Linked DNA regions of Homo sapiens: region 2 is linked to region 1. The links come from fine-mapping of genetic effects on gene expression. Tissue or cell type: aorta. Region 1 holds a variant in brackets; the other region holds the start of a gene. All regions are shown on one strand. Distances are from middle to middle.

Region 1 (16,468 bases):
GGCTGTGCTAGGCTCAATCCACTCATTCTCTCACAGGTTGGAGTCTTGTCTTGCAGCTTTCCCAGGCTGGAGTTGCATGCTGGGTACCCCATGCCCATGACTCCACTAGGAATTGCCCTAGTGGGAACTTTCTGCAGTGACTTAACTCCAGGATAAGTTCTCTTCCTGGGCTCCCAAGCTCTCCAATACATTATTTGAAATCTAAGTAGAGGCCACGATACCTCCACAGCTTTGCTTTCTGCACACCTGCAGAAATAGCACCCTGTAAACACCACCAAGGTGTACCTCTGAAGCAGGAGTACGAGCTGCACTTGGGCCTGCCTGAGCCACAGCTGGGGCAACCAAAGAGTACTGTGCCAAAATGTGGGGAGCAGAGTCCCAAAGGTGGTGCAGGGCAGTGAATGCTGAGGTCCTCTGGGCACTTCTTTGGAAACCCTTCTCTCAAGGCCCTAGATGGAAAGGACATCCTGGAAGACCTCTGAAATGCCTTCAGGGTCTTTCTCCTATTCTTTTGGTAAATAGCCCCTGCCTCCCTTCTATTCTATTAGTCTCTTTAGCAAATGGTCACTTGTATACACCCTAGTTTGCTTTCCTAAACATACTCTTTCATTCTTTATGTGGCCAAGCTGGACATTTACAAAATTTGTATTTTCTGCTTTCCTTTTAATTATAAATCCCATCTTTAAAATATTTCTCTCTTCTCTCATTTTACTGTAAGTGGCCAAAAGAAGCCATACAGCACCTTGAATGCTTTGCTGCTTAGATATTTCTTCTACCAGATATCCTAGTTCATCACTCCTAAGTTCTGCCTTCCACAAAGTCCATTGTCCTCAGTGTCATCAAGTTATTTGCAACTATATAAAAGGGATGGCCTTTATTCCAGTTTCCAATGTCTTCTTCCTCATTTCTGTCTGAGACCTCTTCAGAATGGCCTTTACCACCCATATTTCTACCAACATTCTGATTATGACTACTCAAGTAGTTGCTAAGATTTTGGCTTTCCCTATGACTTTTTTCTTCTTATGAGCCCTCACCAGAATTGCCCTTAATTATGCCTAGTGTTCCATTATTGGAACACTAAGCATGTGGTAGTTATTTATATCCTAGCACTCAAGGTCATCACCAAGGTCTGATTGCAAAAATTAAAAAAAATTGCCACCTCAGGCATAAATGGGTTAATGCTTCATTTATTGCAATATAGGCTTTTTATAGCCTGACCTGCCAAATTCTGCCAACCTCTACCCATTACCTAGTCCCAAAGCCATTTCCACATTTTCAGATATTTGTTATAGCAATAGCCACACTTCTTAATACCAATTTTCTGTGTTAGTTTTGCACTGCTATAACAGAATGCCACAGACCAGGTAATTTATAATAAACAGAAATTTCTCTGGCTCATGGTTCTAGAAGCTAGGAAGTCCAATGTCAAAGGGTTGCATCTGGTGAGGACCTTCTCGCTATGTCATAACATGCAGAAGGCATCACAAGGACAAAAGAGAGAGGAAAGGAGGCCAAACCCATCCTTTTATCAGGAGCCCATTCCTGCAATAATTACGTTTCCAACACATCAACTTTGGGGGACACATTCAAATAATAGTAGGGCCTTTGGGGTTTCCCTCTGAAGAGAGGCAGGAACTGACTTACCCATGAAAAGGATTCCTGTGGCTGCTGTGCAGAGACAAGATGACAGGCAGTAAGGGTGGATGCAGAGAGATGCACGAGACCAGAGAGAGATGATGGGGCTTGGACAAGATGGCAGCAGTGAAGATGGCGAGAACTGTTAAGTTTCTGAACATATTTCAAATGAACAGCTCACAAGGAGAGAAAAAGAAGAATCAAGGGTTACAGGAAGGATTTGAACTTGAGCAACTGGAGAAAGAAACTGGAGAAAAAGGAGAGTAGTGGGAAGTCTGAGCCATCCTTTCTAGAAGGGTGGTAGAGCTCACCAACCCTCCCCAGAGGAGCAAGGATGCAATCAGAGGCCACTACCTTCTTCATCCCAAGCACAGGGAAGGCCTGTTCCTTGGGCTTCAGGTCTCCTCAGCACAGAACAGCCCTCTTCTCTTCCACTGCTCTGTTTGTGATGCTGGGAAGAGTATCCTGGGTTTGGAGCCACACTGGCCTGTGTTCAGTCCCTCACTTTACACATCCTATTATGCAGCCTCAGCCAAATGTCTTTCACTCTCCTAGTCTGTTTTCCTACCCATGTGCTACTCCACATCTGCCAGCTGTCATCTACATACACAAACACTCAGCCCCGGTAGTTCTGAGCCCCAGACCTGGTGGCCTTGAGGACCTCAGCACCCCAGGTGACCTCCCGTTATTCTGGAGAATGTTCAAGATAAGGCAGCCTCCTACATGTCCTGAGACAGGGCCATCCCTTCTTGTCCACCACAACCTCCTCATCCACATACCTCATCAGGCTCCTTTTCTCCCTTCCCAGCTGGCTGTGGCCTCCCCAACCTTCAGGGTTGTGTGTTGAGGGCAAGAGGTATCTTTTGTTCCCCAGACCACAAAATAGGCCTGTTCTTAGCAAGCACAGCTTCCTCTAGTTGTGCACCTAATCCCATGCACACCAAGGTTTCACTCACATTTTCAAAAAAATATTTCTTATGTGTCTCAAAGCATGATCTTACTGACCCTCTTCACAACCCTGTGAAGTAAACAGTGCAGATATCAAGGCTCCATTTTACAGAGAAGGATGCTTGTCCTGGGCTTGTCCACCCTGTGGAGAAGATGGGCATATGTGTGCATACAGGCGCAGCCCTTTGTTGATTGCGTAAGGTGCATGCACACTCACACAGTCCAAATGGTGCTATCTGTTTCCAGCAAGACACATTCCTGCATACCCTATAGGCAGTCTCAGACTCCCTGACAAAGTAGTTGAGGGAGGTTAGACTAGGTAATTTCCAAAACTGTTGAAATGAAGTCCTCCAAGTTCTGAAATCTCATTCTTTCTTGTCCCCCTTCTTTGATTGTGGGGCACATCCTTCCTTGTCCTGGAGGCACCAATGTCTTACAGCCCAGCACTGGTATTCACTGAACACTGAAATTTCAGGATCTGTAATAGGCTCTATACATGCAAGAAAAGATGCAAAGTCCATGACCCAGCTGGGAAGGAAAAGAGGAACCAGATGACTGACATCAAGTGGGGAATTGTCTGTCCATTTGCTTCTTCTCCTTGAGTAAAATTTTCTTTTTAAATCCTCTTTTGATACCAGCCCTGACATTTTCACATACAGTCTTCACCCAGGAAACACATCCTGAAGAAACACCACCCTTCAATTTCATGCACACTCACTGGGAACCTATTGGGTCTAATTACTGACATGCAGAAAGAAGCTCAAGCTCCATTCTTGACCCAAAGAATATGGAATAACCTGCAAACACTCTGTGTCAGAAACCAGCCCTGCTGGTGGAGGCCTCCTTGGACAAGGCTGTGGAAATATCCAGTGCCATCAGTCAGGGTCACAGAGCTCAGAAGGTTAGAGCAATTAGCCAATAAGAGAAGGCAGCCACATATTCAACCATGAGTTAAAAGCGAGATGAACCCCCTAATCAATGTGCAATCTGGAGAAAATCCCAAATGGTGTGCCACAGAATTTGAAATTTCATGAATAGTCATTTCTCTTTCTTGGAGGTATGTGAAGGTGTCTATTGAAATGAAATGCTCTCTGGGTGGAGTGGCACAGTTGGTCATTGTGGTTTCTTCTTTTTTAACCTGTCAGCATGGATTCATTAATTATTAAAGCAACATCACAAGATTGTGAGGTAATGGGACATAAAATAGATACATTCGGAGAAAGAAAAGGTTGTGGATAAGGAGTATTTGGAAGACATTCTGCACGTATTGAATTTTGGGAAAGAAAAGGAAAGAGGGAGAAATTAAGGTAAGAAAAATAGATGTTACAAACAGCATCCAAAACAAAAGGACAGAATACAAGGGGATGAGCCGGGAGACAGAGTTCTAAAACTATCCCTCCTGACACCTGCTGTGTGGCCCTGTGGGATCATCATTTCTGTCTGGAGCTTCGTGTTCTCACCCACAAACTCAGGGGTTGGGAAACGTGACTCTAAAGTCTCTTCCATCGCTGATTCCATCACGTATTAAGGTCAACTTTACCGCTAGGATTATTGTAATTACAGCAACAAAGGAGTTTTTATATAGAATTATCATCTATTTTATATAGAACTTTCTGTTTTGTAAACTCATTTAAACTCCTTATCCCACCTGATTCTTGAAAAAAAAAGCTAAGTCATATATATAGAAGTGAGAGGCCCATTTTGCAGAGCAGGGACATGTCATCTATACAGGGAAGCAGGATTGTCAGTTCTACATGTCCTATGCACTCAGAATATTGTTAGATCCAAGCACTTGCTGTTAAATGTATGTGCTAACATGCCTTTGAGGCCCTAAGAGAAAGAGACTTGGAGTCTACAGTAGGTGAAAAAAACTCTCCGCCACCTGTGGAGGCATTTCTTCCAGCCAGCCATCATGTCTCCTTCCCTGCAGGGCCCTGTGGGCATCCTCAAAGACTCATGAGATGTCCATGGGGACTCTGCTGACAACAAAGAAACATGTCTGCAGTGGTTTTCTGGGAACAGTCAACAGGTGTCCGCTGGGTTGATGGGAATGAAGCTCTGAGACAACGGAAGATTCTGGCTTCTCTGCCAGCCTGCCAGCCTGCCAGCCTGTCATGAAGCCTTTGGCTGTGTTGATCTGATCCGTTAGCCAGCAGTGAGATCAGAATTCTCTCATCTGACAAATGTTTGTAGAGCACCAGCTGTGACCAAGGCTGAAGCCAGAAATCCTGGGTCTTTTTGAGAGCTCATCCATGAGCTGTTTGACTTTGTGCAAGTTGCTAAACCTCTCTGGAGTACTCTTTTCTCATCTGTCAAACGGAGTCTATGTACCCGCTCTGGCCCTGCCCAGGACTCTTGTACAATTCAAATGAGACTGTGTCTATGAAAAGGCTTTCAAGAGCATAAGCCACTCTGTTAGCATAAAAGATGGCTGGTGGCAATGAATTTGATATTGACATGGAGGAGGAAGAAGAGAGGAGAAGAGGATGAAGGAAAAGGAAGGAGGAGGGAGAGAAAAAAGGAGGGAGAATAGGGATCTTTGAAATCTTGTCTCCTGGGGGTTGGGAGGGTCCTATCTACCTGACAAAGATACTGCAGGTTCTTTGTGTTAGACACACCAAGGCCGGGGGCGCTGATACTTTGGTGAATGCAAACTGGGAAGGTAGAAAAAGTGCAGGGAGTGAGGCACAAAAACACAGAGAGCAAATAACTTTATTCTTGCTCCTACCCTCTTACCTTTTCTCCCCCGTTATATCAAAATTGGTTTGTTTTCTCTGTGCAGTTTTGGAATGTAAAAATAATTTGTGCATTTAAATTAATCCCACCTTTAATTCTCTACCATCATTTTCCTGGGAGTTTAAATACGAATAACTGTTTGGTAACTGAATATGGACCTGCACTCTACAAACAAAATAAAGCATGTCACAAAGTCATTTCATGCCTACATGTTGATAATTAGAGGAAGGAGAAGAGAGAGAGGAAGAGAACCACCCCCAAACTCAATCACTGATGGTAGAAGAGCCTCATGGTTGGCTAGAGCAGTGAAAAGCTCAGAGCTCCAAGATTTGGCGGGTGGGTCTAAATTTAGAACTGATTTGTAGACAAATTGGAGGGAGTTCCGAGAAAAGCCACCAAAACAATTAGAGGAATGCAGCTTAA[T/C]TGGCCCAGCTTGGCTAAGCAACTGCTAAGCAAGGAGCATTATAGAGTCTGTAGCCAGAGGAAACAGCATAGACTCTACTGAGGGGGAGGAACTATTTAGCTTGCAACAGAAGAGGCTCCAGAAAATAAGTAGAGCCCAGAGAAGGCAAGACACAGCTGAGGCCTGGGCCCAGCCTCTCATGGGAAGGCCCATTGGGTTTCTCTGGCCAAGAAGTTAAACCCCTTTGTGGGTCATTCCACCCCAAGTATTCCTGAAAACGATGCATCATTATTTAATTTAATTTTCACAACCCCCCTGCAAGGCAGATGTGTTTATTCCATTTTTACAGATGAAGAAACAGAAGCTCAGGGATGCTGAGTAACTTACCCAATATCTCTTGGTCATAAAATAAAGATTTAAACTCAGATCTGATTAGTTTTAAAGCCTATGCTCATCTCTGTGACACAATAGAACTTCCTGGGAGATGTGACAAGAAATGAAGAAACAGAAATAAAAGCCCCTATAGCTGAGGCTCCCAATGCTTCTTACGCAGTTAAAGGCTACATAAGTGGGAAGGCAAAAGAAGCCCAACTCTCTAAGGTGTACTCTGTCACACTGTAGTGCCTTAGAACAACCGGGCTCCCAGCCTTAGCCCTCTTGTCTCCTGAGATCTTGTTGCTCTTCCCAAACTAGCTGACTTCTTTCCACTTACTCCAGACCTAATAACCCTCTGACGTCCCAGCTGTGGCATAGCTGGAAGAAAACGGACTTCAGGTCAGACAGACCTGGTTTTCAATTCTACCTTTTTTAATTTTTCATTTTTTTGAGACAAAGTCTTGCTCTTTTGCCCAGGCTGGAGGGCAATGGTGCCATCATGGCTCTCTGCAATTTCAACTTACAGGGCTCTAGCAAGCTTCCTGCCTCAGCCTCCCATGTAGGTGGAACCACAGGTACTTGCCGCCAAGCCCAGCTAATTTTTTTGTTTGAATTTTTAGTAGAGATAACGTCTCGCTATGTTTCCCAGGCTGGTCTGAACTCCCAGGCTCAAGTGATCATCCCACCTGGGCCTCCCAAAGTGCTAGAATTACAGGCATGAGCCACTGCACCTCGCCATCAATTTTACTTTTTCAAAAAAAAATTGTGTGACCTTACCCAAGTTACTCAATTTCTCTAGGCCTGAGCTTACTCACCGCTTAAACAGAGCTCTTTTTTTTTTTTTTTTTGAAATGGAGTCTCCCTCTGTCGCCCAGGCTGAAGTGCAGTGGTGCGATCTAGGCTCACTGCAAGCTCCACCTCCCGGGTTCACGTCATTCTCCTGCCTCGGCCTCCCGAGTAGCTGGGACTACAGGCGCCCGCCAGCACGCCTGGCTAATTTTTTGTATTTTTAGTAGAGATGGGGTTTCACCGTGTTAGCCAGGATGGTCTCGATCTTCTGATCTCGTGATCCGCCTGCCTCAGCCTCCCACAGTGCTGGGATTACAGGTGTGAGCCACTGTGCCCAGCCTAAACAGAGCTACTTAAGTCTACCTTCCAAAATTGTTGGAGGAGCAAATGAGATAGTGAGCATAAATGTGCTTTGTAAATTGCAAAGTACTGAATGCAAGAGGATGTTATTGGTGATGGTATTGTAAGTTGCATTCTAAGTCACTGTAGACAATGTTGACCTTCACTGGGTTTCTCTCACTTCAGACTTGCACCTGATCCAGCCATCCCCAGAGCCGTACCTGCTCTGGTATGAGATGGGGGTTGGCCTAAAATCAGAGCAAACCAGAGACAGCTCTGAAAGCAGGCAGCTGGTGAACACCAAAGTTAAGACTGAGTCAGCCATCTGATAGATGGCCTACGTCAGAATAGGGCAGAATGCCAGCACTGGGACACATAGTGGAGGGCCAATGGCAGCCTGGAATCCAGAGACACATGAAACAGACAATGCAAATGGTGTAGGAAACGCGAGCTAAGATCTAGCAAGATGACTTGCATCTGAGACACAGCAGGATCTTCCTGATGGGACAGTGTCCAAAGATGGGACATTGGGACTTGGCTGGAATAGGGATGAAAATTTGAATAGAAAATAATAGTACTAGGTGCTGTCTGGCCCTTACAGAGGTCTTTAAAACTCCCTGAATATTGATTTATTAGCAGGCCTAGGGAATGGGGTTTTCTAAGGCTGTGCAGATACTGAGAATAATCTTCAGTCTTTGGAGAAATGAAGAACCATAGCAAGTGTAGCAGTCAGGGAGGTGCACAGACTAGGAATCAAGAATCTGAGGCTTGTTCTTTCTCACTGTATTGACCTTTTCAAAATTACTTATTACCCTTCAGTTCTCTCTTCTATGTGCAAATTACACAAAAGTCAACACTTATTCAGATGAAGTGCCTACTGTGTGGCTGGCTTTCGTCTAAGCACTTCACATGACTGACTCTTGTCCTCCTCAGAGTAACCCTACGGGAAGCTGCCATCATTATCACCATTTCACCAAGGCCCAGAGAGAAAACCTGACCAAGAGGCAAAGCTGAGATTGCAACCTGAGCTTTCTAGCTCAGAAACCCACCCTTAGCCACTGCATGCTGCAACCTTTTAAATAGATCCTGAAAGAGATGATTTCTGAGGCTCTTTACAAAAGCACAAAACATCAGTGATGGGCGAGCCCTTGAAGATAACCTAGCCACAATGTGCTTTTTTTTTTACCAATGAGGGGACCCAGAGAGACAATCAAGTGCCCAGCAGTGAACAGGCATCTCGCTCTAAAAATCTGTCACTGCATGATTCAAAACCACTGGAAAGAGGAAAATTCATTTATCAGCCAGATGTTCCATGGACATCACAGCTGTGCCTGCACATACAATTGCTGCATCTGCAGTGGATGTTTTGATATTATCAAAAACCTTTCTCCGTCCTCATCTCAGGTCCTTTGTATATCCTGGCCACAAAACCTAAGCAGTGATTCTTGACTTTTGTGGTTTGCAGATGCTTTTGGGGATCTTGTGAAATGTGTGAACTACTTTGCAGGTAAAAATAGACATACACTTCAATTTGGGGAAAGGGGATTATGAACTCTCTGAAACTCTCCCGTGAATCTCTAGGGGTCTGTAAGCTGCAAATTATAAAACTTCTGCTACAGATAATGAGAACACCAGAGCACAGCAGAATGGAAAGAAGAGATGGATTCTGAAGAGTCTCTCAGGAGATGGAAGGCCAAGCAATAGGGTCAAAGACCTTCTACTCCCTGAGTTGAACAGAAGACAGAGGAGAGGGCAGTGGAAGGTCTTTGATTCTGCTACTTGACCTTCTGTCTCCTGAGAGATGCTTCAGAAGCTGCTCTGTTCTTTCCATTCTACCCTCCTCCTTCACTTTGGTCCGGGGTAGAGATTTCCTGCTCGCAGTCCAGTCCTATCTACACCCATCCTTAAGCTTACTCACCACGTACACAGAGCTAATTAAGTCTACCTTCCAAGATTGTTGGAGAAGCAAATGAGATAGCAAGCATAAAAGTGCTTTGTAAATCGCAAAGTGCTGAATGCAAGTGGATGTTATCAGTGATGGTATTGTAAGTTGTATTCTAACTCACTATAGACAATGCTGACCCCCTCTAAGCTTCCCTCACTTCAGGCTTGTGCCTGACCCAGCCATCTCCAAAGTTACATATGCCCCGGTATGAGATAGAGGCTGGCCTAAAATCAGAGCAAACCAGAGAAGGCTCCGGCAGCTAGTGAACACCAAGGTTAAGACTAAGTTAACCATCGGACAGATGATCTTTGTCAGAATAGGGCAGAATGCCAGCACTGGGACACAGAGCAGGGGGTCAATGGTGACCTGAAATCCAGAGATACATGGAACAGATAATGCAAGTGGTATAGGAAAAGCAAGCTAAGATAGAATGGAAGTTCCATGAGGAGGGGCCCTCCTTGGTCTTGTGTGCTGGTGTGTCCTCAGTGCGCACCACAGTACCTGGCACGAGTCCAGAGCCCAGAAGACACTTGTGGGATGATGGTTTGTTTACTGTACAGGAGCCAGAGAATGGGAAACTTTGCACATTATCAATTTATTCTTGTCCTTGATTTTTCCTTCTTAGGTATAGGAGCAGAGGCAGGGCAGGTATGGCAGATGACCTAGGTTAGCTCAGGTTTCTCTAGGAACAGACCCTGAGATGAGGATTCTTGTGTGAGTGATCTGTTGAAGGTGCAAGCAAACTAAAACAAAAGCTGTAAGGATGTGAGGGAAGGGGGACCGAGCAAGGAGAGGGGCTCAGCAAAGCTACAGTCATTCTCAGCTTGATCCCAGGAATATCAATATGTACAAATAGCATCACAGAGTGGCCCCACTTTGAGACAAGGGCATCAGGCTTTTGTGCCCCTATATCAGTCAAGACATAAGATCTGAGACATTTCCTGGTGAGGTGGCTCCTATCAGGGCCAGCAGAGAACAATTCTCAGGAGACAGGTGCAATGGTGGGTTGTGAGACCCACTACCCCTAGCAGCTGGGGGGATGGCCCAGAAAGGATATTGGAGTGAGACACCAGCTGTCTGCTACATACTCTAAGTGCCAACTCAGATCGATTGATGGCGGCTGCCGACAGCTTTGCACTGAGAAAAGGTCAGAAGCCAAGCCTTGGCTCAGCTGAAAAGCACCAAGATGGATTAACCATGTCTGCTGGGGGCAGAGAAATGCAGCCCCAGTGGCATCTATTTGCCATTCTGAGCCTAAGGGGAAACTGGACCCCTACTAACTATCAGAGGTCTAGAGTGGTCCAGGGACTCTGGGGCAATTTTATGTGTCACACAATTCCGAATCTTATCATATACCATGTCAGACAGTTTCCTGTGTTTTGATTGACTATAGGTAGAAACCAGACAGGCAGCCAGTAACTGAAAGACAGCTTTCCCAAATGAAAGCAAAGGAGTTACTTAAAAGTAGACAGCCTTTTAGCAGAGGATGGCAGTCACCCTCAGAGCCCAGAACAGCAGAATATAACAGAAAACAGGAACAGAGGTGTTAGGAAATAGACATCAAGCATTTGAGCACGTTGGAATGAAGCCAATGACCAGACTGAAGGCTAAGACCCCATGTCTTGGGCTTCTCTACCCCCACAGACCCTAGCAATGTGCCAAACACACACAGCTGTTCCTGAGTACCTATGGTTTAGATGTTTGAAATCAAGTAAACCAAGCTTTGGAAACCAACTCTTGGAGGGAGAAGACTACAGCTCCAGAATTTCTAGAAATTTTCTCCCATGCAGACCTGTGGACACTCTAAGTGAAAACGGCAGCCTGGCTTCCTTTGTATGTCTCAGGATGTGATGAGTGAATCTCTGTTTTCATCAGTTATCATTATAGACTTTGGTGTCAGGAGAGATTGGGGTGTGGTGTAGAGATTGGAGTGTGGTGTAGAGATTGAGGTGTTGTGTAGAGATTGGGGTGTAGTGTAGAGACTGGGGTGTGGTGTAGAGACTGGGGTGTGGTATAGAGATTGGGGTGTGGTGTAGAGATTGGGGTGTGGTGTAGAGATTGGGATGTGGTGTAGAGACACAGCCATTGAAGGTGTTCTACCTGAGCTTCATTTCATGAGCCTAGCAGACCTGGTAGTAAATAAGAAACCTGTTCCTCACCATGATGAAGTACCTGTGCAGGGGGCTGGGATGACTCCCCCTTTGCTTCCTCAGGCCAGGAGAGGTCACTGGAGGCTCACAATGGTCCTAACAAAGAGGACAACAATGACAATAGCAACAGCTATGGCCACAAATATCTACTACTGCCTTAAAAGGTATAAAGCACTTTCAATCCATACTGCCCCTTGATCTTCAAAACAACTCAGTGAGGTAGGCAGGGGAATGAAAAGACCCAGGATGTTCCTTGGTGGGGTGGAAGTAGGGAAGGATATAGGAAAGGAGGGCATGTCCCACAGGGTACCATGATCCACCCTCTTTTCCTGAATGAACCCAGAGTCGCACTTCTAGGGAAACCAGGAACTGAGCTGGTGGTTGCAGCCACAGTGGGACACAGCATGCTCTTTGAGGGAGGGACAAGTGAGAGATTATATGATGGGTGGACCACCCCACAGAAATGCATCCTCCCTTGGCATTAATCTACTGTGTGTTTGCTTCCTCTTGCTTGGTCATTCTTAGCCTTCAAAATTCAGTTCAAATAGAATTATCATATGATCTACCAATTCCACTCCTGGGTATGCACCCAAAAGAACTGAAATCAAGCACTGAAGTAGACAGTTGTACAGCTGTGTTCATAGTAGCCAAAGGGTAGAAACAACCCAAGTGTCTATCAACAGTTGAATGGCTAAACAAAATGTGGTGTGTGAATATATATATATGAATATTATTCAGCCTTTGAGAGGAAGGAAATACTGATTCGTAATACAACTTGGATGAATCCTAAGGACATTGTTCTGGGTGAAACAAGCCAGACACAGAAAGATAAATACTGTGTGATTCCATTTATGTGAAGTGTCTAGAGTAGGCAAATTCACAGAGACAGAAAGTAGAATCGAGGTTTCCAGGAGCTGGGGTGATTGGGAAATGGGGAGTGTTTGCTGCACGGGCACAGGGTTTCTGTCTGGGATGATGAGTGGTTTCTAGGGATGGATGGTGGTGATGGTTGTATAGCATTGTGTATGTACTCAATGCCTCTGAATGATACACATAAGAATGGTTAAAACAATAAACTTTGTTATGTTTATTTTACCACAGTAAAATAAATAAATAAGAAATAATTTCAGTTCAGGGGGCTCATGGCCTTCTGAAAGCTTTCCTGGCCCCAGCCTGATAGTGTCAGCATCCTCTGTGTGCCTGGGAACATACTGTACTCGTGCTGTTAATGTTCTCAACTGTCTCCACACTAAGCTCTGAGCTCCTGGAGACTATGGTCTGTGTCCTCTTCTACTTCCCTTCTCTGGCTCTGGCCAAGTGCCTAGCACACTGTGACAATTTGATAATTCTATTTTAAAGCAATGAATCTGATATACGTGGCATGCTTAAAATGTATAGTATATGTTTATTTAAGTAATGAAATAGATATTAACTGTGATCCCAGTGGTGATTGGTTGGATAAACTTGGCTCAGGTTCTTCTTAAATTTATCTGATTCTTCTTTCCATTGTCATTTTGAATGGGCCACACAGCAAGTGAATTGACTGAGAAATGGTGAACCTGATATAGCATAAATGATACACAGTTTACTAACAGTTCTTAACACATGCCAATACCCCTACTGGAGAGATTCTTCTCCCACCACACTTTTTTAGCTTAGTCAACTCAGAATCTTCCTTCAGGCTCAAACATCTCCATATCTGGGGAGCCACACTTGACCCCTTGTATAAGGTAACACCTTCCCTCTCTGCCTTGGACTGAAATGAGCCTGTGATGCGATCTTGTCTCCTCTTTCCTCACACTTGTCTCACGGTGTTATATTACTTGTTTACTCTTTCTGTCTTCCCCATTCGACAGTAAGCTTCAAGAGAGCAGGAGTGCTACCCTCCCAGCATCCAGGAAAACTCCTAGCACATGGAAAGTTCTTAATAAATATGGATCGGAAGAATGGCTCAAGAAATAAGGAGTGAATGAAGGCAGTGATGTGGACATGAAACTGTACAAAGTGTGTGGCCAATCCCTCTTCACCAGCTGAAAGGGCCCTCAAAGATCACTGAATCCAACTCTTTCATCAAACAGATGAGGGAGGTGAGGTCCAGAAAGAGAAAGTGAATTTACCTAAGGTGGATAACAGAGCAACAGACAAACAAGAACTGGAATCTAGGTATCTCATGATTCTGTGCTATTTCCATGATAACATTCTCCCTGCTCCTCTCAAGGTCAAGATTTCTGTTGTCCAAGATGATATGTGATGTCATACCTTTGAGATTAAGCCATAAGCTCACATCATGCATGGTCTTTTGAAAATACCATTCATTTTAACAGAGACATTCTGAACAACAATGCATTAAACTAAAATGTCCCTTGCATAGTGGAGTTTAAAGCATCAGACTTGGCTGGTGGGGAATAGAATTGGGAACATTTTACAGTCCCAACTGGTGTTCCTAAATCTTTATAATGAGGCCAGGCTGTCCTCTTAGGAAAATCTGAATCAAGTGAGACTGTTATGAAGTCAGCTGAGATCTACTTGCCTGAAGTTATGTTACATGGTCAAGGCTGGGAGCGAGTGGGAGGAAAATGGTGAAGAGGGTGAAGGATTAGATAGAAGATCCCCCTGAAAGCTAGAAAAGGAAAAAAGAGTAATAATGTGCCCATCCATTTCTAATTCTATCAAGGGGAGAGAGTAGACAACTTCAGTCCTTAATCACAACCACCTTGAGTTTGAGGAAACTGAGTATGCTTCATTCATACAAGTGGACAGAGGTCTGCCTTCTTCTCTGCTCACTACAAGTGTTATGCCCAACCTCAAGGCATGAATCATGACTGGCCTAAGCTAATCATGGCAGTCAATCACGGCCAATCTAAGCCAATCTAAGCCAATCATGGCAGTCAATCACCTTCTTGTCAATCACTGGGCAAGCGCTGAGCATGTGAAAGCCAGTTTTTGCTCTCACTAAACTCCTTTTTCCTTACAACTCTGATGTGTAAAGACATCATGTGTACAGCTGTGGCAGCCATCTTAGACCTTTGAGGCAAGATATTTCCAGCACAGAGGAGCACAAAATAGCAGGACTGTGAGTTCTGAATGACATCACTGAGCCACTGAACTGACCCTGAGATCTTCTGTTTCTCATTAAGTGAAACGCTAAATACCCATATGGATTAAGCCATTGTTAGGGTTATGGTTTAAGCCAAGGGTCAACAAACATTTTCTGTAAAGGATCAGATAGTAAATATTTCCAGCATTGCAGGCTATATGATCTCTGTTGCAAGTACTCAACTCTGCCATGGTAGCACCAAAAACAGCCACAGACAATACATAATCATGTAACATATGTAAGTGAATAGGCTGTGTTCCAACAGAACATTATTTACACAAACAGGCAACAGGCTGGATTTGGTTCATGAGCCATAGTTTGTGAACTTTTGGTTTAAGTCATTGATACATTAATCTCACAAATATTTATTAAGAACTTCCTACATGCCAGCCACAGTGCTAGATGCTAGGTGTGGCTCAGTTATAGCTGAGATCAAAACAGATCAAGTCTCTGCCCTCTGAAGCTTATATACTGCTCAGAGAGGTGTATAATGAACAAATGAGAAAATAAAGAAGATAATTGCAGATCGTGGTAAATGCTGGATGTAAGTAGCATGATGTGATGGATAATTTTGAGGTCGAGCAGAGTGAAAGGGATGGAGCCAGTTTAGATGGATTGGGAGAGAAGGCAGGTCTAAGATGAGATTTGAGACCTAAAGAATAAGAAAGAACTTACTACATGAAGAAACAGGAAAATCCTGTAACAAGCAATAATAATTGAAGAAGCAAAGCAAAAACTCAAGACAGGAATACATTGGGCATATTCAGAAAGCCAAAAGAAGAATGACAAGGGAGACAAGAATATGTAGGGTCCAGATCACGCAGGGTCTTGAAAGCCTGGGAAGAACCATGGATTTTACGCCAAGAGCAATGCAAGGTTCTACAGAGGGAAGTGGCATAGTGATGATTTACATTTTTTTAATGATCAATCAGTGGGTTGTAGGGAGGCAAGAATGAAGCAGAGATGCTAGTTAGGAAGCTATTGCAATAACCCAAGAATTTTATAAGACGTATCTCAATTCACCCGAGCAGGTTACAATAGGTCCCCCTGCCCCCCTAGATGGTAAACTCAGACTGAGAATATAAAATATGAGAACCCAGAAGCTCCAGAAAAAAGCTCCAGAAAGATAGACTGGCTTCTTTATGAGGATATTCATGAAATCACAATTCAATAAGATCCTGAGACAGGGTGACTTTGCGCCAGGAGCCAAGAGCTGCGGTGGACACTCTTCTTTGCCAGCTCACACAGAGCCATGTTCACTTGCTTCTCCTGAGTCTAGGAAGCACTGGCACAACTTAGAGGTGGCTGAGTGCCCCCTTCTGCACACCAACTGAGACAAGGTATTGCGGAGGCATGCATGACCACTCCGCCATCCTTCTTCCCTAGTTACTTAGTCTTATACTGTGGCACTACGCTCCAAAAAGGACACTAGTGGAGAGGCTCGTCAGACTGTATATTTATTCCTCACTTTGTTCCACAGAGGATTTGAAGCAGCTTTCAAGACATATATGTAATAAAGTAAAAGATATAAATTAAATATATCAAGACTAAGAAAACTACAAATTAGATAAAACATCGAGACTAGCGGGCAGAAGGGAAAACTAAAATGCAGGTTATAACATCCTACCTGGTTGCCATAACAAAAAAGGATAAGAAATCCCATCTGTTAGCTGATTCCTTCTGTCTTATTTATATTCCCTGCAGCATTACACGGTTTCCCATATTGCAACCAACTCCTGGGGCTTTCTGGCCAGTCACATGGTGACCACATGCCCAGTGCAGGTGCCTCACTCTCCCTGCTTGCCTCTGTGGTAATCACAAAAACAGTCCTTTCTCCACTCTGGGTGGGAAGGAAAAAGTGCAGCTGGTATCTGCAATTTTCTACTCAGTTGATTTGTTCTGGGTTTGGTTTAACTTAATGATTTCTCAATAAGATTTGAATTTCTTCAAATTAATAAAGGCAAAATGCTAACAAGCAAGGGAATGGAACCAAGACATGAGATCCCATCCTTCAGAGACTGGGGAAGGCATGTAAGTTCCCAGGGCCAGAG
Region 2 (16,468 bases), 35 kb after region 1:
AAGACATCTTAAATCATGGGAGATTATCACAAGGAGTGGGTGGCAAAGGGAATCCTGGAGATAGAGATTACTGTGCCCGGACCTGAAAGAGCTTTGGGGTTCCAGGTGGCTCAGGAGCATTGCAAACCTTCTATGACTGTTCTGCTGTAAGGGGGAATATACTATAGCACATCCAGCTGCCCATGCTCTCCCAGGTCTGTGTATGTCTGTCTCTCCACTGGCTAATAACATGTTTTGTGCCCTTAGTTCAAAGTCCTCAGATGACAAACTTGTAGTTGCCTACTCATCTTTTCTATTAACAGCAGCCACAATGTATGGACAGCTGGCAGCCCAGATGATTCTCTCTGGAGCTGGGTGTTCCTGCCTGGTTCAATCAGCTGAGCCTTGGTTAGAGGGAAGGGCCCAGCAGGGACTGTGGAAGGGGTGGCTCCTTTATAGGAAAAATAAAAGGATCTACCATTCCCAAGGCTGTAATATGGCCACCACAAAGAATCTTAACACTAAAACCAACCAAACAAACAAAATGCAATTATCTCAAGTATTCCAAGTATTTGTCCTGAGCTAGGCAGAACTCCCATCTATTCTGTACTTCAAGTTCCCCTTCATGTATAAGCCCTCCTGACAAAAGGACAGAGGCAGAGTAACAGAGAAAGACGTAAGGGAAGGGAGAGCTGAGTGAGGAGGGCTTAGCGCACCTGCAGGCTGATCCCAGCCAGGAAGGGTGCTCCCAGCTACAAGAGGAGAAGCCACATTCTAACAGGCATATGCAGTAAGAAAACTCCTGAGTTCACATCATGGGAAGTTCAGAATCAGCCCCAGGTGTGACAGTCAACACTCACCATGCTGTCAGGGCTTAGGCTCCAGTCTGCGCTCCACCCAGGAATCAGGAAACCTCAGTGCTGGTTTCACCTTCAAGCTGTTACCTAGATGTCTTCAGCAGTCCTGAGTGCTACACACAGGACAGCGTCCAGAGGAGGAAGAGAAGCTCTCTTCTTATGAGTCTCTTAGAAGAGAGGAGAGGTTTTCCCTAAGTTTCCTAACAGACTCTTTTCCCTCTCTCATTGGCCAGAATTGGTTCACATGGCCCTTCCCATTGTTAGGGGGAATGGGATTATCCTCAGATCAGTCTGAGGGTGGAGTCACCTGAGGTGGGAGGCCTGGATCTCTGAACCAGTTCTGGGTTCTCTTGGTAAGGAAGATGAGGACGTGCATGGGCACTGGTAAGGCAGATGAAGTGTCCACTTTACCTCTAAGGACTGTTCTGGAAAACAACAGAGAGCAAGGCACAAAGAAAATCATGGTACAGGGACTGCAGAGGTGGTGCTGTGTGCACAGATATGGAGGCAGAAGTTCTGCTTTCAAGTCCCAGCCCTGCCACCTACTAACTATTATGTCCTCCCAGAACCTCAACTTGCTCACCTGTAAAATGAGAATTTGAATATCTGCTCTGACTCCTATAACTGTCTGAAAACCCAAAGAAGGCAATGAGGGTAGAAGTTCCCAGCCGACAGAGTTGGATGGCTCATATGGAAAAGCTAGTTATTATTAATGAGAGAGAGAGATCCTGCAGGACAGAGTTGGAGGGAAGGGCAAGCCAGGGACACAGACTAGTGCCGAGACCAACTCAGTCGGGGAGACCCTAACCCAGCAGTGCTAGAGGAATTAAGAAATACAGAGGTGTGAAGTGGGAAATCAGGGGTCTCACAGCCTTCAGAGCTGAGATCCCCGAACAGAGATTTACCCACGTATTTATTAACAGCAAACCAGTCATTAGCATTGTTTCTATAGATGTTAAATTAAATAAAAGTATCACTTATGGGAAACGAAGGGATGGGCGAATTAAAGGAATAGGTTGGGCTAGTTAACTGCAGCAGGAGCATGTCCTTAAGGCACAGATCACCCATGCTATTGTTTGTGGCTTAAGATGCATTTAAGCAGTTTTCCATCCTGGGCAGGCCAGGTGTTCCTTGCCCCCATTCCCATAAACCCACAACCTTCCAGCGTGGGCGTTAGGGCCATTATGAACATGTTACAGTGCTGCAGAGATTCTGTTTATGGCCGGTTTTAGGGCCAGTTTATGGCCAGATTTTGGGGGGCTTGCTCCCAACAGGCTAGGGGTGGCTTGCTGGCACTTCGAGGTGTGCATGGCAGGCAGTGCCATTATGCTGCTCCTCAGGGGCATGGATAGCCTCTGCAACCTTTGGATATTCCTATTTGCAGAAAGACAACAAATAAAAAGGATAATTAACTCAGGAAACCCAAACAGAGTTTTGTACTTTATGTGACTTTCCACTGACCCAGGGACTGTACTGGTGCTGCTGGCAAAGATCCTAATCTCTGGGATTAAGGGCTTGATCCCCTTAAATCAGCACTCCTGGAGGTGGTGGGGAAAGCCAACTTCAACCTGATCCATTGCAAACTGACCGGTGGATTAACGAGTCAGGGCAGGCCTCCTTAACTGAGACTTCTGTTTTTCAATATTGAGGTTTTCTTTAAAAATCTCCACTAATTGGATTGCTGACTTGGAGATAGGGATGCAGGCTTTAAAACGAGAGAGGAAGACAGACAGAGACAAGGCAGTGTGTCTGTGTGTCTCAGAGCAATGCACCTTTATCCGGTTCATCTCAGCCATGCAAGACCGTGCAGGGCATCAGCTCAGCCTCACCTCCTCAGGGGGGCTGCCGCGGTGCTCCTCCCACCACAGGAATATGTGACTTCCTGCAGGGAGCTCCTGGTTCCAGTGTCAGGACTATGGCCCTGATTTCTACTTTAGCCATCTAATCTCGTAAGAAATATTCGAGTACCAGAGTTAGAGATGCATGTCTGTAGTCAAATGCAGACTTGGCTCTCCAGATGGCAATAGTGAAAGGAAGCCCATCCTGCTGGTCAAAGCATCCAAGAAATAAGGCAGGTGGCCAGGAGAAACCTGGCTCTAGCATCCCACCCATCTCCTTTGCTACAGATGGGCTTGGGCAAGTCACTCCCCATGTGGCCTTGGATTCGCCATATTAAAAGCTATGGGGTTCTACTAGATGGTCTCTGAGATCATTTCCAGTCTGGCCCCTCACTGGTTCTTTAACTGGGAGCAGTGGCTACAAGATTGGATCTGGCTGAATGCTTTTTCTCATTCAGCCTGATGCACTCCAGAAGTTTCAGGTGGAATCACCAAGGAGCAGACCTGAGGCCATGCAGCTTAGAAAAATAAGAAGTAGGTAAAGGCCAAGAGTACCTTCAGCATTTAGTGAAAAATGCTCCAGTGGTGGGCTGGGGATGGGGAGCAGGAGGAGGTAGAGCTATACATTTTTACAGATGCCTCAAATGCAAGAATCAGAAGGAGCCAGGGTTGGGAATGAGGAAGCGTGGATTTAATTCCCGGTTTATCCTGTGAGCAGTCACTTCTTTCTAGGCTTCAGTTTCATCCACCATAACACAGGAAAAATAATATCTACATCATTAGGCTGCTGAGCAGATTGGATTAGCAGACATGTAAAGTGTCTGGTACAGGACAAATACTGTGCAAATGTCATTTCCCTTCTTGTCCTGTGCTAACTGAAGTATCACTGTCTTCCCACTTATCAGAAGGTCTGAGCAGAAAGCCTCATCATTTTAAGTAGCAAAACTCTGGAGATTTAAGCTTTAGAGGGAAGCTTCCCCAGTTTGACGGGTGGCTGGCTGTGCCATCATGGTTCCTTTGGCCCAAGAGTTCCCATTCCCTTGAGCAATCTCCCTGCAACAGCTCCTCCTAGAGCCCACTAGCCTAAGCCCATGAATCCTGTGGTTCTCCTGTGGAGCAGCTGCAACTGGCTGTGGTATGCAGGGAAGTTGCCTAAATACTAAGGGAGTGCAGAAAATGAATCAAGAGGGTGACACTCAGGCCCAGTTTATCCTGTGGTCTGAGTGTGGGATCCACATGTCATCAGAGGCAGCCACCCATCCAGCCCCTTGCTTGATACCCCTACCTCCTAGCTAGCTGCTGGGTCCATTCCAAGTAGTTGGTGCCATCTTATCCAGGAGCTGCCTCACATATCAACCCTCTGGAGGCTAAGCCTTAGAGTCCCATTCCTGTAGGAAGCCCCCAAGCCTATCACATGCCAGCTCTGGTCTGAGACGCTCCTTTTTCCCAAGAGATAGGTGCCAAGAGTGACTTCCCTTATCAGGCAAGACTCACTCCGATGCACAAGAGTGTGACGTGCTCTCTCCTGGTGGTGGCCCTCCAGGACAGGTAGCATGTCACGTCCTACACTGATGCAGCAATGACATCCATCGGTCCTAGACAGTGATTCTTCTGCTTTTTTCCAAGCTGGGAATACAAGGCTGATGATTAGGAATGGGAATGGCAATTTGAAAGCACATAAGAAATCTCTGAGGCTCTGTATATTTGTTCAATCATTTAACAAGCATTTCTAAGCACCTAGCGTACACTAGGTCTGTGCTTGGCACCAGAAAGCGACAGAGATAAATCAGATGGAACCAAGAAGCTTCTACTGTATTGGGAAAGATAGCCCCTGCATAAAAACAGCCATTTAGAAAAAAAAAAAATGTGTTACAAGAAAATGTCAAATTTGAAAGTGCAGAGAAAGGTGAAAGGGGCATTTGGCCCGTACAAGTTGAAGAGGGTTTCACAAAGGAAGCGGCCTTTGAGCTGAGTCTTGGAGGATGGTTCTGAATGTCCTGAGAACAACAACTGCCACTGACTGATTCCCTGCAAGAAATCCTTTCATCACTCCGGATTGGAACAGCTATCCTGAGATAAAACCCGAGAAGTCTGGGAAGTGAGGAGGGAACTTCGAAGAGGAGTCTTAGGAATGTGAATACTCAAATCCAAGATCTTAAGATCTCACTAGAGGGATGCTTGTGCACACAGTCCTTGGTAGAAAAACGTCAATCACTGAACTAAGACGTGCATCTATTTTTGAAGTGATCTGCACTTCTGGGAATAGCCCCAAAGGGAAATTGGTCATTGATTGCTAGGAAACCAGCAATTCCCGCTGGGCTTTCTGCTCCTTGCCATATTTGCACATATTTTTTTCCAGGCTCCTGCCTGCTCTTCTTTCAATACACACATCCAAACTCACACCAGCATATGTTCTAGCTCACGCCCCCTATGTCTGTCTGAATAAAAACACCAAAGTGTATAAGAAAATGGATGGTGTTCTACAAATTGCAGCACTCCAAACGATGCAGACAGTGGAAGAAGAGTCCACTAACAAGAGTTTCTGTGTTTTGTTTCTGTTCAGTCTTCTGTTTCTATCACCGAAGCTAATTATTTGCCTTCCTGAAGACCCTTCACAAATGTAAAGTGGGGTTGCCTTGCTACAGGTGGGAATGAATTTTATAAATGTTGCATTGCATAGCAAGAAACTAAGCTTAGAGAGCACCTGCCAGTGCTATCAGTTCTATGTTAGATCAAAGCCTCTCTTTAATTGATTTTTAAAACCCAAGCATGTCAAGCCAAGCACACAGGCATGGATGTTATACCTGTGCCTTCCGGACTCCAGGATAAAGCTGGAATTTGACCTTTGGCCATGACATATATGCATACATATATCCATAAATTCTAGTGTTGGCCTTCATGAGTGGGGAAGTGGAAAGAATTCTTACCAGTAATGAGTGGGCCTAACATTCTCATTTCTGAAATGAGAATCTCCCTTTTCGTCATAACGATGCTCCCTTTTCTCTGTAACACTGCATTCATTACCCTATGGCCCAGGAAACAGAAAGGCTTGACCTCTGAAAATTTAGACTGCCCAGAAGTATGCCACCTACTACTGCATACAAAAAAACAGGATGCACACCAGGGAGGCGATGTGGTATTTTGGAAGGTCTATGGGCTTTGGAATTAGATAAATCTGGGTATGAATTGAAGTTCTGCTGTGTATTAGTTGTGTGACTTCAGTCAGATACTGTAACTTATCTAAGCTTCAGTTTTTCACTTCTAAGATAAGAATAATAGATCCTAACGTATGGAGTTATTATAAAGATAACATGAGCTAACTCATGGAAAGCCCCAAGCAGTCTGCCCTCACCCAGAGGATACCCAATAAATGTGAATTTCTGTCTCCTGCTAACCTCCATGGTCACATTCGTTGCTTCTTTCACCTTGGGAGTATTTTCTAGGGCACAGTTTTGAAACTATATTTTGGAGAACTTTTGACCTCATTTGAGTTCTTTCCAGAGTCTCAAACCACAGACCCACACCTCGCTTTCCTCTGAACATTTAAAAAAATCTTCCTTCGAAAAGGTCCTAGATACATTGCTGCCCAAATCCTGCTTTTCCCTTCCCTGAGTATCATAAATGCCAATTTTCCTTATCTAAAATTTCCTGTCAGATTTATTTAATCAACTCATAAGTCCTTTGGGGCCTCCCTTGGTTCCAAAGTAGCAGTTGCCTTAGTCATTTCCTCTACTGTCTGGGAAAGAACTTGGTCTCCAAGGTGATTTCACTTTCTCTGATCAGGGAGGACGTCAACATCACACAAGTGGTATGCTTGCTATCGATCTGTTTTCTCTTCCTTTAGGGTTTCTGTGAAAAACTGGTTGAGGTGTTATTTTTAGCAAATTGATGATTGCCTCTGCCTGCGCACATGTCCATCTGTCTGTCTGTGAACACAGCCAACCGAGGTCCAAGAAAGCTTTCCTTGCCTTGCCTCGACAGCTGTATTCATCTTAAGAGCTTCATGCTGAGCAAATGGTTTAAGGCCTTTGGTGATTGAAAAAAAATGGCAGTACAGTAACATGGGCTTCAATTGTCACATTTTCTGCACATGAGGCCTTTGAGTAATTTGTAGTCAGCATCCTGAGTTGGAATTTCACCAAATAGTTCACTATTCTCCATACTATTTTATGCTACCCTGCCTTTGCTTATGTTGTTCTGTCAGCCAAAAATGTTATTTCTTGTTCATTCACTTACTCAAAAATAGTTATATCATAGACATAGCTATCATAAGGCAGGTACTACACTGTGTGTTGGGAATTTACTGATGGGCAAAAACCCATACTGTCCCTTACATGTCATCTTCAAAGCAATAAGGGGTCATTGAATAATCTTAAAGAGGGCACTGGATATGATCAGATGGAAATATCACTCTGGCTGCAGAGTAGAAAATACATTGAAAAGAGCAGGTATGAATGTGGGGATCTCTGCTTTTGACAATAATGGAGACACTGGCACTATGCTAGCCCTCTGCCATAAGTGACTACAAAACTAGGCAGAATATATAAGGAAACTGCTTTCTGGCAATGGCAATGGCAAGACCACGACCTTTGAAAAAAAAGAAAATTATGAAGTGAGATCTCATTTTTTTCAGTTCTTCATTTAGGGACAATATTCTAGCTGTGATGTAGAGGGGCAGAGCCCATATAGAGCATGACATTCCCACTGACCAGAAGCAGGAATCAGATTTTGAGACTACTGAAGTGACTGGAATCTGTGGGGTAGGCCATGATAAAGTGGGGAGCTGTGAGGAAGGGGGCCCCAGATATCTTTGTGGTAGGAGTCATGGACAGCACAGACACAGGGAGAAGGCATAAAAGCTTACCAGGAAGGGCTGTTATGAGGTTGAGAGTGGAGCAAAAATACTAGAAGTCAAGTAGTGCTAGAAGATACTGGAGTTCTTGCTCAGTCAGAGTGTAGAGGCCTTGTTAACACCTGGAGATCCAGTTAAGACATCAGAAAGCCATGCCTTAAGAATAAGGACCATGTCAGCCAGGCATGGTGGCTCATGCCTGTAATTGGGAGCCCATGGCAAGTGGACCACTTGAGGTCAGGAGTTTGAGACCAGCCTGACCAACATGGTGAAACCCCATCTCTACTAAAAATCCAAAACTTAATCGGGCGTGGTGGTGCATAACCTGTAGTTCCAGCTACTTGGAAGGCTGAGGCAGGAGTATTGCTTGAATTTGGGAGGCAGAGGTTGCATTAGGCTGAGATTGAGCCAGACTCCGTCTAAAAAAAAAACAACAACAGTAAGGATCATGTCCTCAGGCAGGGTCAACAAATTATGGCTCTTGGTTCAGCTACCAATGTTTATAAGCAAAGTTTTGTTAGAACACATCCTGCCCATTCATTTACATTCAGGTTACAGTAGTAGAGCTGATTATTTGCTACAGAGGCCATATGGTTCACAAGCCTAAAATGTTTACTATCTGGCCCTCAAGAGAAAGTTTGCTGATCTTGGTCCTTGAGTAAGGACTACACTAGATGTATTCTAATAAAGTCTAAAAACAATCCTCAACCAGATTCACTGGGAATTTTTGAAATTTTAGTACTATGAAGTTAGAGGAGATTAGAGAACACCACAGAATTCCTCCTCCACCAACAAAGCATAAAACCAAATCTCTAAAAGTTCAAGGTCATCAGCCAGAAACTGAACAATTTGCTGGAACAAAACTGAACACTCTTCAGAGGAAGATAACATAACCCAGAATATTTATGCCATATCATCCATAATGTCCAGGATACAACAAAAATTACTAAACATGAATAAAAATAGAAAACTCTGATCCATAGTGTAGGGTCCAGCCCCACAGGGTCGGACTGGTAGTGGCCCCCCGGGCCCAGCTGTCTTTTCTTTTATCTCTTTGTCTTGTGTCTTTATTTCTACACTCTCTCGTCTCCACACACGGGGAGAAACCCACCAACCCTGTGGGGCTGGACCCTACACATACGCAAGAAAAAAATCTTTAATAGAAATAGATACCAAGAAGGCCCAAATGTTGGGTTTAGTAAAGACTTTAAAATATATATTATAAATGTAAATTTTCTACTAGAAAAAATATGGTCCAAATGAGTAACAGATTAGTCTTTGCAGAGAAAAGGAAGCTCAAAGAAAGAGTGAAAATGGGAAGACCAGTTGGAAGGTTACTGCCAAGATTCAAGTGAGAGATAATGATGATAGATTATGCTAGGATGGTAGCTATGCCTCTGGAGATAAGTAGATGTTTTCAAAAGATTTTTAGGAGGGATATTTAGTATAATATAGTGATGAGTTGGATATGGAGAATAATAGAGTGGGATGTGTAAATAAAATGCTTAACTTTTTGTCTTGAAAAATGAGATCATTGGTGTTATCATATAGTCAGACGGCAAACCCTGCAGAAATATGTCTTGGACAAGCTGAGTTTCATTTTTAGTTTTTAATCTCAAGAATTCTAAGGCTCATCTTCTTTCTCAACTCTAACACTCCTCCTTCCACCAATGCAGAATGGTTCCTCTTTAGTATTCCCATAATGCTCTGTTGAGATGCTTGCAATTATCCTATTATTCTCTTTTATAACATCTACTTACACGCCTAGACCATGAGCTTCCTAAAGTCAGGGACCATGCCATGTTCATCTTTGTAGTCTTGACTGTTAACATTGCACTTAGCACATAGTAGGTATTTAGTTGATGTTGAATGAATGAATGAATACAATTATTTCAATGATTTTCTTCTCTGAGGATAGTGACTAGGAAACAATTTCTGAGATTAAGGGCAGGGACTTTAGAGTAATATAGACCTGAGACTACACTTGGTTTTTCACTTACTTGCTAGGGACTAGATAAGTTACTTAACATTTGTAAAATGGAGACCAAAAAGGAAAAAGGCCACCTTATACTGAATAAGGTGGGAATATTTACCACATTATAGGAAGTAAGGTAGAAATATTCTTGGAAAGTGGTCAGCATAGTGCTTGCTCCACTTAAGATGCTCCACAAATACTAGCTAATGTGATGATGATAACAAAGAGACAGATGCTGCAAAAGCAGCTGTCCAAGAAGGGCTCTTGCATAGAACAGGAAGAGCTAATTGCAAGAAAGTCTTCCACCATTCCTCCCTCACCTGTGCTTACACTTAAGGCACCTCTCACAGACCAAGACATGTTCTACTGCTAGCAGAATTTGCTAAGATATGCTTATGGGAATAACTTAGGGGAATATGGGAAATGGAAATATGCTGAGAGGATCAATGGCTTCTTTTTATGTAGGTAACTAAAGGGCAGATGGAAAGAAAAATCATCATAGTCATCACTGGCTAGCTTACCTGTAAACACTAATACATATACCTCCAAATTCCACAAAGTTCTTCCCTCAAAGATGACTGTGACTTTCTAGCTCCAGAGGCCTCACTCATTACCAAACTTGGGTGTCTGATGCAGCCACAAACCTTTAGATTAGCAGAATCTATTTCATTATGCTTCACAAAAGTTTAAAATTTTGCTGAAGCACCTAGAAGAGAGCTGTGCTTAATTTTCTGAATTTAAACGTATTTAAGCTCTAAGTAAATAATTGTCATCCAGTGGCTCCTTGGCATTACAAGGTCATAGAGACAGGAAAGAAATCAACTGTAACATCATCCCAGCTCTCAGATTTTCCCACGTGCTGTCATTCTCAAGCCAAGGTGAGTGGAGAGGCAGCTATGCCACATCTTGTCAGGGCTCTTAAACTCCAAGGCATCTCTGCTTTATGCCTTAGGCCCCTCTAGGAACTCCAGTTACTCAGTTCATTGTGTAACTTGCTCTTTAAGATTGTCTCTTCTCCCCATGTCTCCTCTCCCCTTGGCAGAAGTCCAAGGTGGGTTGATAGCCTTAGGGTGGTAACACCATGATGCACCCACAGACCCTTAATCTCTGGCTCTGACCTTTACTCTCAGCCATTACACTTGTCTACCTCATGATGAAGCTGCTGGGAAACCAGTGTCCACATTGCTGTGGGATCACATTGCAGGAATGGGCGGCTGTCATCTTTAAGATATTCAAATAAGTATCTTTTCCAAGAGGCATCTTGGGCTATGATCAACAGATCCTTCCTGGTAGCCTTCGTTATATACCTGGATTCTAAGGTCCTGGAAAACAGAATGCTTTTATCTGAGCTGAATCTCATCTTGCTCTGGAGAGTGCTAGAAGTTCAATTTGGTAGAACTCAGCTAGAGTCCCTGTATCCCTTGAAAATGTACTTAAACCGGCTCAAACCCCGAAATCAAGGCCTGTGGGAGTCCAGAGTTCTTTCCATGATTGCTTTGAATTCCTGACTGCTGACATCCTCCTGGATTTCCTTATCTCGGTTCCTGATCTTCACACCTGAGGTCCAATTTCTACTCCATGGTAACCTGAGCATAAGCTCCATCCTTTCATAGGTTTATGACAGTGTCATTTGGACCAAGAATTTCATGAGTTGGGTTAACTCATGAGCTCAAAGTTTGGGCTGTCACATCCTGCACCTCTCAGCTTTTCACCATCTCTCTCTCCTCATCACCTCTTATTTTTCCACTTTTCATTTCCTGTCTTTCTAGAGTAGCAAGCAAATTTTTACCTTGCCTCTCAAAGAACAGTTATCTTCATACACATGTTGCTGGGGGGTCTCACTTTGCACCCCCAAGAATGTGTTATATTCCAAACAAATAGTATCATTCTTAAAAGATATTTTGGTGTCAGCTGTTAATAGGACATGTATTGTCCTTATTTCACAAGAATTTGGACTACTCCGTCTACACTGGAAAACAAGTACCTTCTAAATCCATTCATTTAATCAGCAGCGGACCAAAAGCATAAGTGGGACCTAGCTAGGAGGGCACTACAGGCATAACTCAGGGAATAGTAGGTTAGGTAGCCACGGACCATTCTGTTACCCGCGTGCCCATAACTTTCTGAGACATCTGACCATTGTGAAACCCGGAAGAGACATGGAGAGGATGAGCATTTGAGACATAGACATTGGAGCCAGACAGATCTGGATTTGATCTTCAAATCCACTTTTTACTGATCACCTAGAAATGGAGATAATGATGGGTATCTTGCAGAGTCATTGAGAGTACTGGGATAAAAATTTATTTAAAACCCTCAGCCTCACCTTGATATGTGAGAGGCTCCTTCCCTTTTATTTATGGTCTAGTGTGGCTGGGAGTTCATTTCAGATGTGTTTCAGTCTTAAAAGTCTCACTGAGAGTCACTTCTCAGTAAGGAAAGATATGAAATATCACTCAGCCTTACTTCCCCCAGCTCAGTCCCCGGCCAGCCTCAGGCATAGATCCTCCCTGGTGGTGAGGACTGTATGTACCCTCTGGTGGTGCTTCTTTTGAAGCCAGGTTGGCCATTCCTTCCTTTCAGACCCACCTCCCTTGCCTGTCAACTTCTTCCTCAAAAAGCACAGAAGACAGAAGAACCACTTGAAAATGATCCTAGCCACAGACACTAGCAGGGCTTGGTACATAGGTTGATGGTCTTTGAACTGGCAACCCCAGGCCCTTTTGGATCCTTGCATGTGCTCTTCCCACATCTTGAAATACCCCTTCCCCTAAGCCTATCTTATTGACATAGTAGAGATTCATTTATTTTACAATAGCCCTTCTATGGTCACTCCCTTCAATTGATCCCCATCCACCACACGTGCACACGTGCAAACACACACACACACACACACACACATATAAGCAGTGATGCTAAAATAGTCTAACTCCATTACTATCTCTCTCCCTTCCCCCACTTAAACTTCAAACCCACTCAGGACAGAGACTCTGTGTCATATTTGTGTAGACTCAAACTGAATTCAACACAATCAAATAACACTGTCTCCAACTAAAGCCACCTTCCAAACAGAACAATTTCACTCATAGGAAACCATCCAAGGCAGTTAAAAACATCACCGACCAATTTGCAAAGTGTTTCCCCAGGCATTAGAGAATTGGGTCTTCATGGCTGCCCTGTGTAATTCTCCCCTAAGTTTACTGCCTAACAGCACTGCCACCCAATTTATTGATCCTAAGCATTTCTGCTGTTTCTGGATGCTTGAATTGCACCTAGGAAGAGAACTCAACTGCAGGGGAAAAAACGAAGGACTCAGATTCAACGTCTACCTGCCTCATGCAGAACAATCAAAGTTCTTTGCTGGGTCCTTCTGCTTTACAAAGTGCTTCATACAGTCATTTAAGCCTCATTAGTATGTGTGAGACATTAGAATAAGTTATTTTATCTGTCTTAGCCTAAGCTTCTCCATCACCAAAATAGGTATAATAATAATAATAATATCTACTACCACATAATTGAATGTTGTGAGAATGAATTGGGTTAAAGATGGAAAGCACATAGTACCATGCCTGGCACATGGAAAGAACTCAATAAAGGTTATCTGGTATTAAAGAAGCTTTCTCAGCTGGGCACAGTGGCTCACGCCTGCAGTCTCAGCTACTTGGGGAGGCTGAGGTGGGAGGATTGCTCAAGCCCAGGAGTTCAAGGCCAGCCCAGGCAACATAGAGAGACCTCCATCTCAAAATAATAATAATAATAATAATAGTAATAATAAAGGATCTGCCTCCCAAACAATCTCCTTTATCAGAGCTGAAGAGGTGATGAGACATAAAGCTGTTTATTCTACCTCTCTTTGCAAGTCTTACCCCTTTAAGTTGTGACACCTGTTGTCTTGGGGTCTCTGGAAGCTCTGAGGCAAGAAACATTCAATTGGTTATTATGAATATGACTCATTATTCTAAAGCCCAAAATAAACCACATATTCAGTTACCACCTGTTCACATGTCAGCTTAGTGCTATCTCAACCCACCCTCTTAGCAACACCTTCACTGGCCCCAGAGAAGACCCCTACCCTTCAGATTATATGCAGTGCCTCCACTGCATTGATTTGGTGTTTCCTTAAAGGACTCCAATTCCACTAGGGCCTCTGCCACTCCAGGGTAGGGGAGGATTGCCAGAACTCTAGGAGTCCCTTTCTCTTGACCAGTCCTAAGCCCCAAAGAACAAGTGACTCAAATGTCCCTGCTGCTCAGAGCCCCTCTTCTACAGACATTGTCCAGTGGGCCCAGGGTTCAGTTGGGAGGGAGAAGAGACCCACTGCAAATGCATTTCCCCTCCCAGCTCCAGGGCGGTGCAAGAGAGCCCAGCAGCACTTCCCTGGGGAAACATTTCCACCATTAACAGCCATGCCCATTGCACTAACAGAATACCTGACGCGAGTGTTCCACTGACCATCTGGCTTCCAGCTTTGTCTGGAACTCAGTACGTAACTTTTGACAAATCACTGCCCTAAAATTGTTACCTCAAAAAATGCACAAATCCCACTGGTTGATCTTTGGCTGAGAAATATTCAAAGTATCTATGATGAACAAGAAGAGATGTTGAGAGTCTAAATGTACCAGGACTTTACATATTGTCTCACCCTCACTCATGGCAGCCTTTCAGGCAGATATTGTCTTTCCTTTTGCAAAGTAGGAAACTGCAGTCATGTCAGAAAGTGCAAGAGCTGGAACTGGAACCCACGTCTGCTGGACACCAAGTCCCTGTTGTTACTTTTCCATCATGCTACATGCTACCTCCCATTTCATGGTTTCAGGAGAGAAAAATCAGTGCAAAAAGCATGAGTTGGCAAAGGTCTTTTGTGTTACTGAGGGAAGATTGTATTGATTCTATCAGTTTGACCACCCTCCATGCCTCCAGCAGCCATCCAACCATCTCTAAGCTCTCTAGGGAGCTGGCCCAGCCCCACTCAGCCTGGCAGGAGGCAAATCTTCCTGACGCTCTGTAATAAAAGGCTTTGGAAATTGGGTTATAAGGAAAACCATCTCTCATTTTCTCTAGTAAGAGAAAAGTTATTCAACAGAGGCCCTTTCCCTTTCAGGGCCCCTTCAAATTCGTTAACTCTCTGCAAACACTGCTTATAAAACAGCACTTGAAGCGAGGCAGCAGAGGCTACCGGGAAGCGGTGGGCAATGAGATTTTAATGTGTTCCATGCTGTGAGCCCATCCCGACTGTCTGAAGAGCCTGGTTCTCAGGCCCCCAATTATTCAGTTTCTCAATCTTCCCCCATCACAGACAACACATCTCATTTCTCACACCCAGCCTCAGGCTCCTTTGTGACAACCTTCATTTTCTGGTCACAGCTTGGTGGCAGCTGGTTTGGGGAGGGATGTGGAAGGGAGGAGAACAATGGCTGAGGTTAGAGAGGTGAGTGGCATCGCACCTGCAGAGTCAGAAGAGCCATGCTGCCAAGTTCCCTTGTGAGGACAATATCTGGCTTTTACATCGAAGGGATCCTGATGGCTATGGCATCTCAGAACAACAGTCTAAAAATCCCTCCTACTGAGTTTTGAAGGAAGCACAGTGAAGTTTTTGGAGAGAGCTGGGGGTCCTAGGGGAAGGATGTCTATAATCTAATTATTCACAAGGAGAAGAGCATTTTCTAGGATGGAAGACCAAGCTATGGGCATCTGATTGGGAGTAGACCAGAATCCTAGAGAAGATATTCTTAGTGGCCATTGATTGGTCATTGGTACAGCCATTGACTTCAAGTTTGACTTGACGAAGGTAGCAGTTTTTTGTCTTTGGTGTCTCTTCCTGTGAAGGTGTCACTTCTCCACAGCCCCACAGGTGCTGCCTTGGCCCATGCCCTCATCATTCCTCCCCTGGACTAGAATGAGTCCTAACAGCGTCCTGACCTCTGGCTGCAACCTCATCTAGCCCTCCTCCCCACAGCCACCACCACCAGAATCTTTCCGGAATGCAAACCTAATTGCACAACACTCTCCTGCTCAAAAATATTCCCTAGATAACATTTTCATAATGCTAGATCAGCATACATATTCATCGAAAAAGCACCGAAAAGACATCCGACCAAATGTTAACAGCAATTATTTTGTGTAGTAGGTTTGCATATGATTGTTTTTTCTTTACACTTTCTTGGTATTCAAGTTTTCTGCAGTGAGCTTAAGATAAATATTATTTATTTTCTAGGCATAAAAATATCATCCAGAAAAAATAAAAGAAATCCTGCACAGAACAAAGTCCAAATTTCTTAGCTTTGCATTAAGCCCACCCAGAGCTTCAACATATCTTTTCACGTTCTTGTTCCACTACAATTCACAGGTCAGTCACACAAAAGCTGTTTCCTACCTAAAATGTAGTCTCCTCTCCACCATCACTACTATCACTTTCCCTATGCTTATACTCCTGTCCTTGCCATAGCTTCTTTTGCTTATAAAACTCCTAGTCATGCACAGAGGGCCACTGCAAATGTACCTTCTCTAGAAACCATAATCTCTTTACTCAGCAGTTATTGTTTTCTCCACTCTGGGCTCATCATACCTCTTGCTAATATTCTCTCCATTAGATTACAAGGGATGCAATTATCCCTTCTCTAAATGAGGAAACCAAAGCCCAGTAGTAGCCAGTAGGTGATATAGACAGGACCAAACCTAGAGTGTCTGGCTCTTCAGCCTCTGCTGTTTAACTACTACACAATAGAGCTTTAAAGCAGTTGCTACTGTCCCAGAATGTAAACAAGAGCTATCCCAGTATGTGAATTAACCATGAGGGTCCTGTGACATCACTGCAGCTGTTTACTGTGATTTGTCCCGCCCTGTTAACATCACACATGTGAGCCCTTTCTTCCCATGATATCGCCTGCCAGTCATTGTCGCCCAGCAGAGCCCACCAGCACTCACATAGCAGACCGCAGCAGTTACTGTGATTGCAAACTTGCAAAGG

Direction of the effects. Positions count from the first base shown, and alleles are read on the strand shown. Sizes are in standard deviations (SD) of each study's normalised expression.
With allele T in place of C in region 1, the expression in aorta of the gene that starts at base 7,754 in region 2 is lower (moderate effect, 0.63 SD a copy in GTEx).

The links. PIP is the estimated chance that this variant, and not a neighbour inherited with it, causes the effect.
Region 2: ASIC2-AS1 starts here. The variant in region 1 is fine-mapped to the expression of ASIC2-AS1 in aorta (GTEx, PIP 0.95).

The regions. Positions count from the first base shown.
Region 1 is chr17:33,585,305-33,601,772 of GRCh38, reverse strand. It overlaps a transcript of ASIC2 not described here. Among named protein-coding and RNA genes, the nearest start is that of ASIC2-AS1, 35 kb to the right of the region's middle. The variant T/C (reference allele first, on the strand shown) is at 5,743.
Region 2 is chr17:33,550,293-33,566,760 of GRCh38, reverse strand. ASIC2-AS1 (ASIC2 antisense RNA 1) reads right to left here and starts at 7,754. Exons shown (of 4, transcript XR_001752838.2): 1 at 7,539-7,754; 2 at 840-1,261. It overlaps LOC112268206 (a long non-coding RNA gene), which reads right to left. Exons shown (of 3, transcript XR_002958160.2): 3 at 7,924-7,945. It also overlaps a transcript of ASIC2 not described here.